Regions from separate parts of the Homo sapiens genome. Here region 1 is linked to region 2. Evidence: fine-mapped expression QTL. A gene starts in region 2. The other region holds a variant in brackets. All regions are shown on one strand. Distances are from middle to middle.

The links. PIP is the estimated chance that this variant, and not a neighbour inherited with it, causes the effect.
Region 1: its variant is fine-mapped to the expression of TMEM47 in tibial artery (GTEx, PIP above 0.99).

The regions. Positions count from the first base shown.
Region 1 is chrX:34,787,717-34,793,100 of GRCh38, reverse strand. No RefSeq gene overlaps it. Among named protein-coding and RNA genes, the nearest start is that of TMEM47, 130 kb to the right of the region's middle. The variant T/C (reference allele first, on the strand shown) is at 2,549.
Region 2 is chrX:34,654,838-34,660,221 of GRCh38, reverse strand. It overlaps TMEM47 (transmembrane protein 47), which reads left to right and starts at 2,937. Exons shown (of 3, transcript NM_031442.4): 1 at 2,937-3,418. The coding sequence starts at 3,193.

The sequences.
Region 1 (5,384 bases), 130 kb before region 2:
AGACTTTATAAACAAGCAGTTTATAGCCAAGACTTCTATGACTAAGCAGCTAATTTTGTAATATCTTCTTTCTCCCAGAAAACATATGGAGGAAAAGGGTAAATTAAAAAAAAAAACAACACCACTTTATCACCATTGGGTATATACCCAATGGAGTATAAATCATTCTATCATAAAGACACATGCACACATATGTTCATCACAGCACTATTCACAATAGCAAAAACATGGAATCAACCTAAATGTTGGTAGACTGGATAAATAAAATATAGTACATATATACCATGGAATAGTACAGAGTCAAAAAAAAAAAGAGTGAGATCTTGTCCTTTGCAGCAACACGGATGGAGCTGGAGGCCATTGTCCTAAGTGAACTAATGCAGGAACAGGAAACCAAATACTCCGTGGTCTCATTTCTTAGTGGGAGCTAAACATTGAGTACAATGGAAGGGAACAACAGATACTGGGGCCTACTTGAGGGAGGAAAAGGAAGAGGAGGATTGAAAAACTACCTCTTGGGCACTATGCTTATTAACTGAGTGGTGAAATAATCTATAAACCAAGCTCCCATGGCACACAATTTACCTATATAACAAACCTGCACATGGACCACTGAACCTAAAAGTTAAAAAAAGGAAAACATAGTATCAGATAAGATAATTTTGAAAATATTGTCCACGTCCTAAAACACTATGTTAATTTACAAATGCTCTCTACCCTAATAATTTTTACCTATTCATCTGTCAAAATCTTCAGAAATTTGTAAGCAATGCACTAGATTCCCAGCATATACCATATGGTAACTACAATTTCAAGGTTACGTATTTGCATGATTTAAAGACAATGTATGGGACTATCATTTAACAAAAACCTATTATATGGGAGAGATTTTAAAAATAGTAGATATGAAGGTAAAGTATGGAACTGACACAACAAAAACATATATATATAATTTATATCACATGATATGTTCATGTATGTACTTTCAATATTACATATGTACATATTATGTATATAATTTACATACAGCTATATTATTTTATGTTTCTGACAACTGTTTCTTCATCTTCATTTTACGGGCAACCAATCTGAGGTTCAAAGGGGTCAAAAACTTTTCAGAAATATTTTAACTCCTCAGTCTCAGGGCTGAATATAGAACGCAGGAAGCCCTGATTTCCAAAGTCCTTCCCAATTTACTGGGCTGCATTGAAGGCCTAAAGTTCAAAATAAATAGAAATTCAATCTAGCAAGGATGCAAAATAGAGAGAGAAACAAGTGAAAGTGAACGTGGAGCTAGTTTATAGGGGGAAGTTTAATTTTCTGGGGAATTCTGAATTTGTGAACTCTAGATTACCATTTTTAGACCAAAAGCATTTAGATGTATTCAGGGAGTAGCCACATGGTTCGAGTGCCCTAGGTAACATCTAGTCTTCCTTATCATGGTATCTCTCTCTCATTAGGTCAAAGCCCAAGCAAAGCTAGAATTGCAAAGAAGTCATGTGCATTGATCACTAATATGTTCTGTCATAATATTAAATAATTTACATGATGTAATAGCATAAATTTGTATTTCAGTGAATACATGCTACTGAGTGGACATCAGTGAAATGAGTACACTAGAGGTAAGGAAGATCATCACCAGCTAGTTCCTTTTCAGGTACAGGCTTTAAGGGGGTCTAATCACTACACAGGAACAAGAATCATTTTATTTTTCTCCATTAGTTGGAGAATATTAAGCTCCAATTGTCATCACATGGAAGGGAAGTAAATTGCTATTGGGACATTTAGGCACCCAGCAGCCTGACTGACTTTGTCTGCACAGCAGTTCAGATTATACATCTTTGTTTTTAAAGTGAAAAAATGCATATTATTTAAGTAACACCTTCTATAAAACAATGACACTTTAAAGGTCTATGAAAGTATTGAAAGTCATTACCTCTGTAAAAGTGAATAGGTAGCTATGATACTTAAAACTAAAATTCTTACTTTTTGAGCACGGCCAAGTTTTATATGTCAAGATACATTTCTTATAAAATATATAAATCCTATTTTTAAGTTTCAAAATCAATTAATAAGCAATTGGTAACTATTCAGTCACAATGCTATAAAAGGCAGAGGGCTAGGTGATGAAGACAATGCAAAAAATTAAATCAAACACAGATCCATTTCTCAGTGATTTCACTAGCTTGGGGACATATGAAAAATATGTACACATACATACATATATAAAACCTCTTCACCATAAATTAGGTTATCTCTCTCCTCCAATCAAAATCCTTCAATTGGCTTCACATTTCTCTCAGAGTAAGATGCCAAGTCCTTAGTAAAGCCTTAGCAAATAATGTGCAAAAAAATGCACATTATTTAAGTAACATCTGCTAGAAAACAATGGGACTTCAATGGTCTGTGAAAGTACTGAAAGTTATGGTGTACCTCCCTAAACCATAGGCATCCCCACCCATCCTCATGATCCCTATCATTAGTTCGCTGATATTTTAGTTCCCTGACCTTTTCAATCTTCTCCTCACTCAGTCTACTCCAACTTCAA[T/C]GGATTCCTTGCTATTTTAGGAAAATTTGCAGGAAAGCTTCGACCTTAGGGCACTTAAACTGGCAAACCTCACTCTCTGAAACTCTCTGCCCTCAGATAAACACATTACTAAGTCCTTTATGTCTTTTCCATTTTTGCTCATATGAGACCTTATTAGTAACATTCTTTTTAGGGAGCTCTGTACTGACTGTTTTTTAAAAATTCTAAATTGCACTTTTATGCTCTGTGATAGATAATTTTAGATGTCAACACAACTGGATTAATGACTACCTAGATAGCTGGTAAAACATCTCTGAGGATATTTCTGGAGGACATTGACATGTGAGTCAGTGGACTAAATGGGGAATATCTACCCTCAATGTAGATGGGGATAATCCAATTGGCTGGGGTCCCAGATGAAACAAAAAGACAAAGAGAGGGCAAATTCTTACTCTCTCTTCTGGAGCTGGGCACTCTTCTTCTCCTGCCCTCAAACACCAGAACTCCAGGTCCTTTGGCTTTTGGACTCCGGAACTTACACCAGAGGAAGCTCCAGGCCCTCAACCCTTCAGCTTCTGACTGAGAGTTACAGCATTGACTTCACTGATTCTGAGGCTTTTGGACTTGGGATGAACCTCGCTATGACCTTCCCTGGATCTCCAGGTTACAGACAGCCTAAAGTGGCACTTCTTAGCTTCCAAAATTTTGTCAGCCAATTCCCCCAATCTCATCTATCTATTACCTATTTATTCTCTCTCTCTGGAGAACCCTGACTGTATTAGTCCATTCTCACATTGCTATAAAGAACTATCTGAGACTGGTTAATTTATAAATGAAAGAAGTTTAACTGACTTACAGTTCTACAGGCTGTGCTGGAAGCATGGCTGGGGAGGCCTCAGGAAACTTACAATCATGACAGAAGGTGAAGGGGAAGCAGGCACATCCTACATGGCTGGAGAAGGGGGAAGAGAGAGCAGGGGGAGATGCTACAAACTTTTAAACAACCAGATCTTGTGAAAACTTACTGTCATAAGTACAGTAAGGGTGAAATCCTCCCCCACGATCCAATGATCTCTCACCAGGCCCTTCCTCTAACATTGGAGATTACAATTCAACATGAGATTTGGGCAGGGATCCAAATCCAAACCATGTCACTGACTAAGAAATTAGTACCAGAGGAGTTAGGTGGTTGCTATAGCAAATAACTAAAAATGTGGAGTCTTCTTTGGAACTGGCTCATAGGTAAAGGTTGGCAGAGTTTTGAAGTGAATGCTAGATAAAGCTTGTATTACCGTTAATGAAGCATTAAGGGTGATTCTGGTGAGAACTTGGAAGAAGAGAATAACTGTAAAGAAAGCCTCTGGCCACTTAGATATGACTTAAGTGTGCATGACCAGAATGCTCATGGAAATATGAACAGTAAAGAGTATTCTGATAAGGTTTCAAGTGGAAAGGAGGAACAAGACACAAGCATACTGCATTTTATTGTGCTTGGCTTTATTTTGCTTTACTGATACTGAGTATTTTACAAATTAAATGTTTCTGGCAACCCAGTATCGAGCAAGTCTATGGATACCATTTTTTCAGTAGTATGTGCTCACTCCTTGCCTCTGGGTCACATTTCAGTGATTCTCACAATATTTGAAGCTTTTTCATTATCATTAAATCTGTTATAGTGATCTATGATCTTTGATGTTACTATTGTAATTGTTTTGGGGTGCCACAAACTGCATCAATATAAGACGACAAAATTAATAAATGTATGTGTTCTGATTGCTTCACAAACTAGCCATTCTTCCATCTCTCTCTCTCTCTTTGGGCCTCCCTGTTCTCTGAGACACAAAAATATTGAAATTAGGCTAATTAATAGCACTACAATGGCCTCTAAGTGTTCAAGTGTAAGGAAGAGGCACACATCAGCCAGGCACAGTAGCTCACACCTGTAATCCCAGCACTTTGGGAGGCCGAGGCAGGTGGATCACTTGAGGTCAGGAGTTTGAGACAAGCCTGATCAACATGGTGAAACCCTGTCTCTAATGAAAACACAAAAAAATTAGCTGAGTGTGTTGGTGCATGCCTGTAATCCCAGCTACTTGGGAGGCTGAGGCAGGAGAATCGCTTGAACCTGGGAGGTGGAGGCTGCAGTGAGCTGAGATCGTGCCATTGCACTCCAGCCTGGGTAACAAGAGTGAAACTCCGTAAAAAAAAAAAAAAAAAAAGAAAGAAAAAAAAAGAGGTATACATCTCTCTCACTACAAATCATAAGCTAGGAATGATTAAGCTTAGTAAGGAAGGCATGTTGAAGCAGAGATGGACTAAAGCTAAGCCTCTTGTGCCAATTAGCCAAGTTATGAATGCAAAGGAAAAGATATTCAAAGAAATTAAAAGTGTTATTCCACTGAACACATGAATGACAAGACAGTCAAACAGCTTTATTGCTGAATTGAAGAAAGCTTTATTGATTTGGATGGAGGACCAAACCAGCCAGGCTACTTTAAGCCAAAGCATAATCCAGACCAAGGCTCTAACTCTCTTCAATTCTATGCAGGCTGAGAGAGGTAAGGAAGATGCTAAAGAAATGTTTGAAGCTAGCAGAAATCAGTTCATGAAGTTCAGGGAAAGAAGCTGTCTGTATAACAGAAGTTGCAGCAAGTTATCCAAAAGATAATTGAAGAAGTTTAGAAGCTAAACTAAATGACAGATTTTCGATGGACACAAAACAGTCTTCTATTGGAAGAAGATGCCATCTAGGGCTTTCCTAGCTAGAGAGGTGAAGTCAATGACTGGTTTCAAAGCTTCAAAGGGCAGGCTTACTTTCTCGCAAGGGGCAAATGCAGCTGGTGACTTTAAGACCAAT
Region 2 (5,384 bases):
GCCAGAGACCTTCTCTTCCCAGTTTGAAAACTAATATCGACAATAAAGCTCTTCTTTCTAGTATTTAGCCATCCTGGTGGTCTTTTGGATGATAAAACAAAACCCCCAAATATGGTGCTTTGACATACTGAACTCAAGAATCAGCCTCAAGGACTCTCTCTGACTTTTCCCTGCCTCTCTGTCTCTCTGACTCTCTTTGCTTCCTGAAGCACCAGGAGGAATTCCCTCTGGAATTTCCTTATATAACTAAGAAAACTCCTTTCCAAAAAAATGCAATTATCTTAAGACCCCTTCCCTTGAAATCTCATCAAATAACCAGGAAAGATCAACCACCCAGAAGAGACTGGGAGTTCTCACTATGTCAGGACTGACTTTTCATCTATTCCTTCCAGGGCAGTTCAGAAATTACCTGGGAGGCTCAATCTGCATAACAAGACAACCTTTGTTCACAGTGACATTCCGCCCCTCACCTTACTGCCACCTTCCCCAGAGCTCAGAAAAACTTTGTTTCAGGCCATGTTCTTTGGGCCCAGTTTCCCCTGGCAATCATTTACTCCTACACCCCTCATCTCTCTTTCAGTGAAGAAGGGTATATAAGCATCTGGACCTCATTGTGTTATTGGGTAATCACACTCCTGTGATTTTTTTCCCTGTGCACATAAAATAAGTTTTACATGCATTTTTTTTCTCCAATTAATCTGCCTTTTCTCAGTTCATTTCCAGTGAACCTTCAGCAGTTGGAGAGGAAGTGTCCCTGTGCCCCTGAGTTTGCTACAAATATATGAAAAGAAAAAAAATACTTTTGAGAGTTTGTTGTATTTTGAAATTGAGGATTAGGGATGGTTGATGGGCCTATGTTGTGCAAAATTCTATAAATTATTAATAGAGGAATAGAGTTTTTTAAGGAAAATTTGGCTTTTTGTTAAAAATTGTTTACTTTTCTAGTTTTGGAGACAGTATAGAGACAATTTTTTTAGATAGTATAAAGAAGGATGGAGTAACTCAAGCAAGCAGTTGAGAACAAGCCAGAAAAAAATTAAGCAAAAATGTGGGTGGAGGTGGGGGTTGGGGTAGGGGTAGAGGGGAAAGAAAGCCTGCATTGAAGAGAATAAAGAAAACTATTGGCTAATTGGAAAATAAACTTATTAAAGAGAAGATGATAGAAGTTGGAGGCAAAATAAAGATTTCTTTATATCTTTGAGAGCACACTCAAGACATTTTCTTATTACTTTTGAATACACATTATAAATCTAGATAAAAGAACAGTCACACAATCCTGGTCACCTCTTAATTGTCCCGGTTTGTAAATTTTTCAGTGTTCCCTAATTTTTTAAGGAGAATATGCACTTAGGCTTCTTTCTAGTTGAGAAGCCAAGAAGCCCTTTGGGATTTGGAGGTTAGTGAGCTCTGGATGCTCTAGGCATTCTTTGTTAAGGGTCCTGCAATAATTAGCACGGTAATGATTGAGAGGTGGGAGAAAAGTTCCCGAAATTGTAAATATAAGAAAAGCCCGGGCGTTTATTTTACATTAGGTTTGTTCTCATTTGACACTAACTCGATTGTTTCTTAGCCCAAAATGTTGCTGCAGTCAACATGTGTTCAACCTATGGAAAGATGTGGTTGGGGAAAAATAATTTTTATCAACCAAAAGTATGAAATCTTGCAACATTGAGGATTGTGTTTCATAGAAGAGAGAACATGTTTCTTGCATTCTTCAGCTCTTAACCACTGTTTTGGGAGTCTCACCAAGTTTTTGGGATGACTAAAGATCTAGAAACATCGCCCCTCCTCATTAATGTATTCAATAAATTATTTATTTTATAGAAAAGATGGAGATGAGTCAAAGAGCTACAAGAGACAGATAACCCACCAATCACATGCTGAACCAGGCAATTACAAAATTTCAATTTCAATTTCAAGAGGTGTTTAGTCCTCACATAAGGGAGAAAATATGGTGCATCTACTTAAGAACAGGACGATGTCCTATTGTGTTGAATCCTTAGCCCTTAGATGCTCAACAAATATTTGTAGACTGCTTAGTTTACCATTCAGGAAATATACACATCACTTTTCCTATTGCAGGTCCTGGGCTAGATCTTGCTAAGGACAAGGACATCCTAATACCCAGGAGGGGAATTAGATCCAGCTTGGCATAATGCAAAGCGGAATTAATAAAGGTTTTAGCCAACACCCAAAGGGCAGAGCAGTGGAGATGGAAATAAGACTTACTTCATATTTCGCAGGAGCTCTCATTTCCTTTTTAGCGCCTGCGTTTTCAGAGCAAATGCCCTTCATAGGGGGGCGCAAAAGCAGGTGAGCCCAGAGAACAGAAGCGGCAGCAGGCTAGCGGAGAAGTGAGAAAACAGGGAAAACCGGGGGACTCCTGGGCCCGTCTGGTTTTGAAAAGAGGGCAAAATGCATTTAGTCACTTTTCTCCTCCGTCCCGCAAATCTCTCAGGATGTGAAATTGTCCGGGGAGGGGCGTGTTACATCACTGAGAGACAGAGGACCTGTCCTTGCTCCAAGAGGCACAGCTTAGGAAACCTAGGAATCCACCTCTGGCGCCTTCTAGAAAACCGCCCACTCCTGCTCCCTAAGAAAAGGAAACCCACGTGACTGGGCGAAAGGGGAGAGCCCGGCGACCTGGAGCCAGCGAGGCTGGGGGCCCGGCGAGGGCCGGGCTGGGCGCGGGGCTGCTTCAAGGAACTGCCGCGCGCTGCGAATCGGGGGCGCGGGCTGGCACTGGGCTCCGCCCGCGGGCCAGAGGCGGGGTAGGGGCGGGACAGGCGCGAGCCTCCGGCACTGGGAACTGGAGCCGAAGCCACCAAGTGCTGGCCCTCCGCCCCTCCCCGTACGGCACCGCCTCCCGCAGCCCGGGGAGGGGCCGGGGCGGAGCGAGCCCGGCCGAGCCGGGAGGAGCGGGCGCGGGCGCTGGCAGAGCGCGGCGCGGGGCCGGCGGCGAAGGTCCGGGGTGGAATCGACGTCGCTGCGGCTGCCGACGACCCACACCCGGCCGGCCGCCTCCGCAGACCCACCTTGGCCGCGCGGCAGGGGGCGCGCAGAGCCCCGAGGGAGCGAGTCCCCGCGCGTGGCAGCTCGGCGGCTTCTCCCTTCGGGAGGTCCGGCTCCCGGCTCTCCGGACCCGCCTGGCGTCCTCGCCTGCGGCGGGGCGGACGACAGCGGCGCCCAGGAATGGCTTCGGCGGGCAGCGGCATGGAGGAGGTGCGCGTGTCGGTGCTGACCCCCTTGAAGCTGGTCGGGCTGGTGTGCATCTTCCTGGCGCTGTGTCTGGACCTGGGGGCGGTGCTGAGCCCGGCCTGGGTCACAGCTGACCACCAGTACTACCTGTCGTTGTGGGAGTCCTGCCGGAAACCCGCCAGCTTGGACATCTGGCACTGCGAGTCCACGCTCAGCAGCGGTGAGGGCCTGGCGCGCCGCGACCCCTGCCTCCCGCCCCGGACTGCCCCGCGCCCCACTGCCAGGACAGTCACCGCCTGTCCCCACGTCCCCGCATCCTCTGCCCTGGCCCGTCCCACCCCGTCCAGGCCCTTCTCGGATCCTGGGGCTCCCGCCACCTCCCTGGCATCCACCCCTCTTCCCTCCCCATCCCTGGTCGCCAAACCTAAAGCGACAGCCCACGCCCTCTCCCTTCCCCGTGGCCATTCCTCCTGTTCTGGAGTAACACGTACGCTATTTTGGGTATTTGTTATCATTTGAGGCGAGAGCCATGTGGCTGTGTAAAAAAATGCGACGCCTTCCACACCCCCGTTAAAAAAGAAGCAGGCAAAAACGCCCCAACTCCACCGAGATGCTGCGGGGGTTCGCTGTTCGGTCTTCCCCACTCTTTTTCCTTCCTCTCTCGAGGACGAATTTGCCTAGTGTTCACATTTCTGCCGGTTCCACTCCACCTTATCTGCGTTTTCACCAATGTATTTCGGTTTGGATTTTATTTCCTTACGTTTTTGATGGATATGAAGAGTTGAGAGAGGGACAGGCTTGTTTTCCTTTCCTTTTTTGGTGACGCCGCCGTTGATTGTGAGTTGCCTTTCTTTCTCTGCCACTCTAAGTAACTCTTCTCTCCTCCAGACCTTTCTTTTCTCCATGAGCTACTCACAGATGCCTAGAAAGTTGTGCTTTATTCCGCCAGCGCTGAAAGCTGCAAATGGATAAGATGGGGGTGGGGAGTGGAGAATAAGGTAGCTACTGAGGCTACCAGTCCCAGGGGGCTTTACTGCTTTCCGCCCTCCCTGACCCTCCAGTTGCCTTCCCCGGCGCCCCAGTTATGCCCTTAGCAAAAATCAGTCAACTTATGATTTCTCGCTACAAACCCCTTCCTTTCTAATTTTGATTCTTCAACTGCTGGTGTCAGCGAAGAGAAAGGGAAATAAAGAGAGAGGACCTGCCGGCGATTTTCTTTCTTTCTCTCTCTTTCTCTCTCTCTCTCTCACACACACATACACAGACTCACACACACACACATAGACACCTGAGAAACTCATTACATTCCTTCCAGTTTCATGTCTTCTCTGGGACTATTTATAAAGCTTTCCTGGAAACGTTTCAAGTTGTAACAAAGTTGAAATAGCACAAAAAGCCACAAAAATCTGATTTTCTTTTGTCTTTGGTTTCCTGTTATAACACAGGAAAATTTGACCAAGTTTCTTCTGTAAATTTAATTTTGTGTTTAAAAAAGGCTTTTTCTTTGATACTACCTCAAAATTCCCATTGAAGGGTTTCCTCTTTGTTGGTTAATTCACTGTGGAGGGAACTGGTTGGCAGCAGGAGGTCAACATTTAGGTCCTTCAATTCTTTCAGGGTTGGCAGTTTACAACTAAAGATAAAATAAATCGGCAGAATTTCTTTCTTCGGTAACCAGGGGATCCAAATAAACTTTGGCGAAAATATCTCCTTTCCCCTCTTCAATAATAAAATTTATGTAGGAATGACAGCTACTGCACGACTCCTTGGCAACGTGAATGTTTTGCCCCTTTCTCTCTGTCTCCTGAAATAATAGACCCCTGATTGCATAAAGACTTTTCAGATAGGTTAGAGAAACCAGTTTCAACTCACATTTGCTTTTCAAGCCAGTACCCTTTTTTCTTGGCCAGGAATGTAGGGAATGGGGAGAAGCCAGCTCGAGTTTGCAGAGCAACATACAGTGTTTGCTAACCTTTTCTTAATTGCCTCCATACCCATTTATCTCAGCTTTTTTCCTCTCTAGTCAAGGAAATATGGAGACGCAAGCCTAATGCAAATATAGCGGTAATAGCACTCTGCAAAGTAAAAATCAAAGGCAGGCCCAGTTTGGGATTTTTCCCTGTTTATTCTACCCCCTTGCTGAAAGTCATAGCCCAGCGTATATTTCTATTTGGATTTCTGAAAAT